Homo sapiens: one gene and its partner. The protein of the gene in region 1 interacts with the protein of each later gene in a biochemical or structural test. Each region holds a gene or a part of one and is shown in the gene's direction. Other genes may lie near its edges.

Evidence for each region.
Region 2: the proteins of HNRNPUL1 (region 1) and RPA1 form a complex in vitro, tested with the Homo sapiens proteins (one study listed by BioGRID).

Annotation. Positions count from the first base shown.
Region 1 is NC_000019.10:41,291,611-41,295,437, forward strand, and holds part of HNRNPUL1 (heterogeneous nuclear ribonucleoprotein U-like protein 1), read left to right. Parts: intron 1-634; coding exon 635-901; intron 902-2,727; coding exon 2,728-2,850; intron 2,851-2,947; coding exon 2,948-3,076; intron 3,077-3,827.
Region 2 is NC_000017.11:1,832,727-1,836,553, forward strand, and holds part of RPA1 (replication protein A 70 kDa DNA-binding subunit), read left to right. Parts: intron 1-3,827. UniProt on the Homo sapiens protein: As part of the heterotrimeric replication protein A complex (RPA/RP-A), binds and stabilizes single-stranded DNA intermediates that form during DNA replication or upon DNA stress.

The DNA of each region.
Region 1 (3,827 bases):
GGACAGGACTGGACCACCTTTTCCTTCGTCTTCATCTCAGTCTAGGCACAAGACTCAAATACTTGGAGCTTCTTAAAATTACCTGCTTTAGGACAGGTGCAGTGGCTCAAGCCTATAATTCCAACAGTTTGGCAGGCCAAGGTGGGAAGATCACTTGAGTCCAGGATTTCAAGACCAGCCTGGGCAACATAACAAGACCCTGTCTCTACAAAAAAATTTAAAAATTAGCCAGGTGTGGAACATGCCTGTAGTCCCAGCTACTCAGGAGGCTGAGGTGGGAGGATTGCTTGAACCTGGAAGTTTGAGGTTGCGGTGAGCCCTAGCTGTGCCACTGCACTCAGCCTGGGGGACAGGGTGAGACCCTGTCTCAAAAAAAAAAAAAACAAAAAAAAAAAACTCTTGCTTACTTGCTTCATATCCACCAACTTTGGGGTCTTAGGCAAGGAGGACTTTGGGCTGGACATTCTCTGAGATGTTCACTGATGCTGCCCAGCTTACCTGTATGTTGGGGAAGGATGCACTTCAATCTGGAAAGCTGTCCACATTCTACTCCCTGCATCTACTGTCCTCACATTTGACTCCCAGTGCCTATGGCAAGAGTTGGCAATCATATTCCTTTGGCTTTTTCTCCTAGGATTTTGAATGTGGAAATGACGTGGAACTGTCTTTTACCAAGAATGGAAAGTGGATGGGCATTGCTTTCCGAATCCAGAAGGAAGCCTTGGGGGGTCAGGCCCTCTATCCTCATGTCCTGGTGAAGAATTGCGCAGTGGAGTTCAACTTCGGACAGAGAGCAGAGCCCTACTGTTCTGTCCTCCCGGGGTTTACCTTCATCCAGCACCTTCCCCTTAGTGAGCGTATCCGGGGCACCGTTGGACCAAAGAGCAAGGCAGAATGTGAGGTGAGTGGGGCCAGAATGTATTGGTGGCCACCTTGCTGCCAAGACAGAGGAGACACACACACACACACACACACAGACTTGCTGCGAGAGTAGCCTTGGGGCAAGTGGCCACTTTGTCCCAGCTCCTCAGGGTTGGACTCAGAGCTGAAAAGCTGCTCTGAGTGTGAGGTGAGGGGTGTTGGTGTGACCTAAGTTGAAGTCGGAGAGGCTACCTAAATCTCAGAAAGATTGCATCTTCTTCTTAAGTGAGGCCAGAATAGGGGAAAAGGAGGCTTTTCTTACAGCAGAAAAGGACACTAGGCGCTTCTTGGGGAGTGCACTGTGCCACCAAGTGTTCTTTTTTTTTCTTTAGAGACAGGGTCTCGCTCTGTCACCCAGGCTGGAGTGCAGTGGTGCGATCACGGCTTACTGCAGCCTTGACCTTCCAGGCTCAAGTGATCCTCCCACCTCAGCTTCTCGAGTAGCTGGGACCACAGGTACATGCCACCATGCCAGGCTAACTTTTTTAGCCACTGAGCCTGGCCCACCGAGTGTTCTTGAAGGAGGTTGAGTAAGTTCCACCTCTCACCCAGAGCTATCAAAAGATAAATGGCCTTTGGGAAGATTTGATTCCAAGAGCTATACTAGTGTCTTTTTTCTTAAAACAATATTTTTCTTGTATGTGTAAGTTATTTATGCTTGTTCTAGAAAATTAAGAAGTAAAAAATTTAAATTTTCATAATGCCATCATCTACAAATAAGTTTACTTGCAGAGTTTTGGAGTTCATCTGTTCTTTTTAATGTCTAAGTGCCTGTTTTATGCTCACAAACATTTATCATTGAGATTCTATGGTATAAGCATTATGATACCCTGCTCTTTTCACTTCACATTATTTTGTGAGCTTTATCCCATCACATAAAAACCTCTCTTTGAACATCATTTTTTCTTTTTTAAAAATCCTTCAAGGGAATGAACGTCATTCTTAATGGCCTTACAAACTCGCCACTCCCCCCTAGTCGGGCATTTAAGATGCATCTGTGTTTACCAAATTCTAAATGTACTGATTAGATACAATTCATGTCCTTGTGTGTGCAGCTCTGTTCCTATTTCATACTTAAAGAAAGTTGTACCACTTCTACCCACTCCATGGGGCCAGTCCCAGTACACAGCCTTCCCTGGGCTATTGCAGGGGGCGGGGAATGGGTCACATAATCCTGTAAATGGGCTGGGTTTGGTGGCAAATGCCTATAATTCCAGCACTTTGGGAGGCCAAGAAGGGAGGAGGATCCCTTGAGTATAGGAGTTTGAGACCAGTCTGGGCAACATAAGGAGACTCTCATTTCTACCAAAAAAAGAGAGAAAAAGATTAGCTGGGTGTGATGGTTTGTATCTGTAGTTCTAGCTACTCTGGAGGCTGATGTAGAAGGATTGCTTGAGCCTGGGAGTTCAAGGCTGCAGTGAGCTGTAATTGGGCCATTACACGCCAGCCTGGGCAATAGAGTGAGACCCTGTCTCAAAAAAACAAAATACTATAAATGCTAATGATGACAGCACTTGGTTTTTTGTTTTTGTTTTCCCCCGAAAGTCCTGGGATTATAGGCGTGAGCTACCGTGCCTGGCCAGCACTTGACTTAATGCTCACCCTGTCCCAGGCACTGTGCTCAGAGTCTGACAAGCCTGATCTTTTTGAATCCCGATACCAGTACTGTGAGGTAGATGGTATTACTGCTTCCGCTTTGTAGAGGCAGCCACAGCTCAGAGGTCCAGAGTCACACTCACAGTCACCACCGAGCCAAGTGGTGCCATACCACCATGCCGCAACACCTTCCCTGTCTTGTTCTTGTAGATTCTGATGATGGTGGGCCTGCCTGCTGCTGGCAAGACCACATGGGCCATCAAACATGCAGCCTCCAACCCTTCCAAGAAGTACAACATCCTGGGTACCAATGCCATCATGGATAAGATGCGGGTAAGGCCAGCCACTGGACTCTCCTTACTCACCTCCAACCTACTGAGTGCTGCCCTGCAACTAAAATCACTCACCCCTCACCAATTCCTGCCCGCAGGTGATGGGCCTACGCCGGCAGCGGAACTATGCTGGCCGCTGGGATGTCCTGATCCAGCAGGCCACCCAGTGCCTCAACCGCCTCATCCAGATTGCTGCCCGCAAGAAACGCAACTATATCCTAGATCAGGTACTTAATGATGACCATTGTGTCCTCAGGAGAAGGGAGGGGACCCCTTGCATGCCTGAGAATCTCCCTCTGGTCCCTTTCTTTTTTCCCCCGTAATGATGATGGACTGCTGTGCTAGTCGGGGGGGTCAGACCTTGTCATACATGATGACATGGTACTACACACAGCTGAGCCTGGACTGGGATCATGATCTAGGCCTACTTACTCAGACTCATCAGCAGCCCCAAAGAACATCAGGTAAGAACTGTTTAGCAAAATGGAAGGAGTATGGATTTCCAAGCCTGAGAGACTGGAGCTTGAATGCCAGCTCGGCTACTCCCTAGCTCTGTGCCTTTGGGCAGCTGACTTTATTCTCTGAATCTCCATCTCTTGGTTTGTAAAACAGGGATCTCAATACCATCTGCACCCCTAACGCAGGACCTGGCACTTAGTAGCTGGTGATTATTGTTAAATACTCTACAGAATAGGTAGAGTAGCTTTCATGCCAACAGCAGTGCTGTAAGGTAAATGCTATTATTGCTTCCGTCATTTTCTCTTCACAAATACGTATGACTGGCAGGTACATACCTAAGTCATATTTTCTACCTACACTTCAGTTAATGGTGGAGTTCTTAACATCAGGGACCTTGGAACCTTTGTATTTGAACATAAATATTGTATGCAGCTGCAGGTGTATCCTTTTTATGAAAAAGAAGGGAAAAAAAAACAGTTTTTTGTCCCTATCTTTCAGCATTCTCAAAAGGATGAGTGA
Region 2 (3,827 bases), on another chromosome or scaffold:
AACTGTTTCTTTTCTGTAAAATGAGAGCAATGATATCTATTGCATAAGGTAAGTAGGAGGATGGAGTGAGTTATTAAATTTAAAGTGCTTAGCACACTGATACATAGTAAATGCTCAGTGTTTATGTTACCTATTAATAATTGCAGTTTTATGTTTGTTGATTTATCAGTTTCTTTTTAAAATTTTAAAATTATTGTGTTTGTTTGTTTGTTTGTTTTGAGACAGAGTCTTGCTCTGTTGCCCATGCTGGAGTGCAGTGGCACATTCTCGGCTCACTGCAACCTCTGCCTCCCGGGTTCAAGCGATTCTCCTGTCTTAGCCTCCCTAGAAGCTGGGATTACAGGTGCCCACCACCACACCCTGCTAATTTTTGTATTTTTAGTAGAGACAGGGTTTCGCCATGTAGGCCAGGCTGGTCTTGAACTCCTGGCCTCGAGATCCACCCACCTTGGCCTCCCAGTATGCTGGGATCACAGGCTTGAGCCACTGTGCCTGGCCTAATACTTTGTGTAAATTCCATGAGGCCTGCAATCATGTCTGGGTTATTTTACTCTGCATTGTATCCCCAATACCTGGAGAAGTGCTGGCAAGTTTTAGGTGCTGAATAAATGCTTGCTAGTTGCATGAATGAATGAGGCAGTGGGAAGAAAGGGACAGGTGAATGGGGAAGAAAGGCAGCTTGGGGGAAAAACAGGAACAGGAAGAACTATTGTTGGACTCAAGTGAATATTTAAATAAATTAGGAATGTGTGAATGCTGAAACCGGGGAAGTGATTTTAAATTGTAGCTTTCATTTACTTTATAGCTGCTACCTTGTGTCTTTAAGACAAATTAAGAATGTTTCTAGGCCAGGCGCAGTGGCTCACGCCTGTAATCCCAGCATTTTGGGAAGCCAAGGCAGGCAGATCACCTGAGATTGGGAGTTTGAGACCAGCTTGGCCAACATGGAGAAACTCTGTCTCTATTAGAAATACAAAATTAGCCAGGTGTGGGGGCGCATGCCTGGAATCCCAGCTACTTGGGAGGCTGAGGCAGGAGAATCTCTTGAACCCGGGAGATAGAGGTTCCGGTAAGCCAAGATCGCACCATTGCACTCCAGCAACAAGAGCAAAACTCCATCTCAAAAGAAAAAAAGAAAAGAATGGTTCTTCACTTTTAAAAAGACTGATCATGGGCCAGGCGCAGTGGCTCATGCCTGTAATCTAAGCACTTTAGGAGGCCAAGGCAGGTGGATCACTTGAGGTCAGGAGTTCGAGATCAGCCTGGCCAACATGGGGAAACCCTGGTCTACTAAAAATACAAAATTAGCTGGGTGTGTTGGCGTGTGCCTGTAATCCCTGCTGCTTGAGAGCCTGAGGCAGGATAATTGCTTGAACCCGTGAGGCAGAGGTTGCAGTGAGCCGAGATTGCACCAGTGCATTCCAGACTGGGCGACAGAGTGAGACTGTCTCAAAAAAAAATAAAGAATGATCATGGAGATATTTAAATAATTTGATAAGTTTTTTTATTTTTTAGAGATGGGGTCTCACTCTGTTGCCCATGCTAGTCTCAAACTCCTGGGCTTAAGCGATCCTCTCGCCTCAGCTTCCCAAAGTGCTGTGATTATAGATGTGAGCCACTGCACCTGGCCATGTTTTTATATTCAAAATTTTATAAACCTATTTCCAGCGTAGGTGAAGTATTTTGTTCATAAATGAAGAATGAAAGTTTCACATGTGTTTGTGGTGATGGAATGAGTTGGAGAACCTTTGCTGACTTTCATTATCAGCTAAAGCAGGTATCATTTTCGTTCAAAAGACACAGGCCACAAAGGGTACGCAAATACCACACACATGTGAAGGCGTTTGGGCAAGAGTCACATGATAAAATAAGAGATGATGCATAGAACTCTTGTGGTCAACAGAATACATAGCATTTGTATCTTAATTATATAACGAAAGGGGAAGGGAACTAATGTTTTTGACTATTTCTAATGTGACAGATGCTTTAGTAGTCAGTACTTAAGTAACCCTAGAAGATAGCTATTATACTCCCATTTTACAGAGGAAGGAAGTACAGAGAGGTTGAATAATGTGTCCATGGGGTGAAGATTTGAACACATGTGCCCTTGAGTATTACATTTGTTGCTTTATATACTTACTAGGGATTTTTTTTTTAAAGGGTCTCACTCTGTTGCCCAGGCTGGGGTGCAGAAGCACAATCTCAGCTCACTGCAACCTTCACCTCCCAGGTTCAAGTGATTCTTTTGCCTCTGTCTCTCGATTACAGACGTGCGCCACCACGCCCAGCTAATTTTTGTATTTTTAGTAGAGATGAGGTTTCGTCATGTTGTCCAGGCTGGTCTTGAACCCCTGGCCTCAAGTGATCTGCCGCCTCGGCTTCCCCAAGTCCTGGGATTACAGACTTGAGCCATTGCACCTGGCCGTAATTTTTTTTAAATGACAGAGTCTTGTTCTTTGTCTCTCAGGCTGGAGTGCAGTGGCATGATCATAGCTCACTGCAACCTCCAACTCCTGGGCTCAAGTGATCCTTCCACCTCAACCTCTCCAGTAGCTGGGAGTACAGGTGCATGCCACCATGCCCAGCTAATTTTTTTTTTTTTTAATTTTGTGTAGAGATGGGGTTTCGCCATCTTGCCTAAGCTGGTCTCTAACTCTTGGTCTCCAAACAGTTCTCCTGCCTTGCCTCCCAAGTCTTTGGGATTATAGGCATGAGCCACTGTGCCTGGCCTTGTCCCTTAAAATGAGTTACATTTGTAAACAGCTGATTTCTTTGGAGCATCGTCCCCATATACTTTTCTTTCATAAGTGATCTCATCCTTCTTCCACCCAACCTTCCCCTTGAATTTGTTGTTTGTTGTTGTTTCCATTTTAGCAGAATTCATGTTGCTCTGATAGGGGCTCTTTTCAAACTGATGTCTTATCCTTCTTAGTACCTCAAACTAGGTCTTGTTCAGACATGTTATAACAAGTTAGTATGAGTTTATTTTAGTGCAAAAAAAATTTTTGAAATGCATGCATAGTTTTTTCATAATGCACATTTTTCGTGTACTTTTTGAATCCCCCTCATACATGCACGTGGTTTTAAAATCAAACGGAACAGAAAGGTGTTCATGGCCGGGCATGGTGGCTCACATGTGTACTCTCAGCACTTGGGGAGGCTAATGCAGGAGGATCCCTTGAGGCCAAGAAAGAGTTTGATACCAGGCTGGGCAACATAGCAAGATCCTGTCTCTATTTCATTTAGAAAGAAGAAAGAAAGAGGTGTTTAATGTAATTACTGACCTCCTGCCTTACCTTGTCCAGTACTGTTCCCCAGAATAACTGCTTTTTAGAAAAATCACTGTCATTGACATTTTGCTTACGTATAGTAAATTGCACCTTTTTTATTTATTTATTTATTTATTTGAGGCAGAGTTTCCTCCTGTCACCCTGGAGTGCAGTGGCGTGATCTCAGCTCACTGCAACCTCTGCCTCCCAGGTTCAAGCAGTTCTCATGCCTCAGTCTCCTTAGTAATTGGGGTTACAGGTGCACGCCACCACCTGGCTAATTTTTGTATTTTTAATAGTGATGGGGTTTCACTATGTTGGCCAGGCTGGTCTCGAACTCCTGACCTCAGATGCTCCTCCTGCCTTGGCCTTCCAAAGTGCTGGGATTACAGGCATAAGCCACCATGCCCGGCCAAATTGCACGTATTTTAAATGTACAGCTTGATGAACTTTGACAAATGTGCGCACCCCTGTAACCACATTGCCCCTGTGGAGATATAGAATACTTCCATCAACGCACAACTCCTCTTGCTCCTTCCCCACCTCCATCCTCACCCT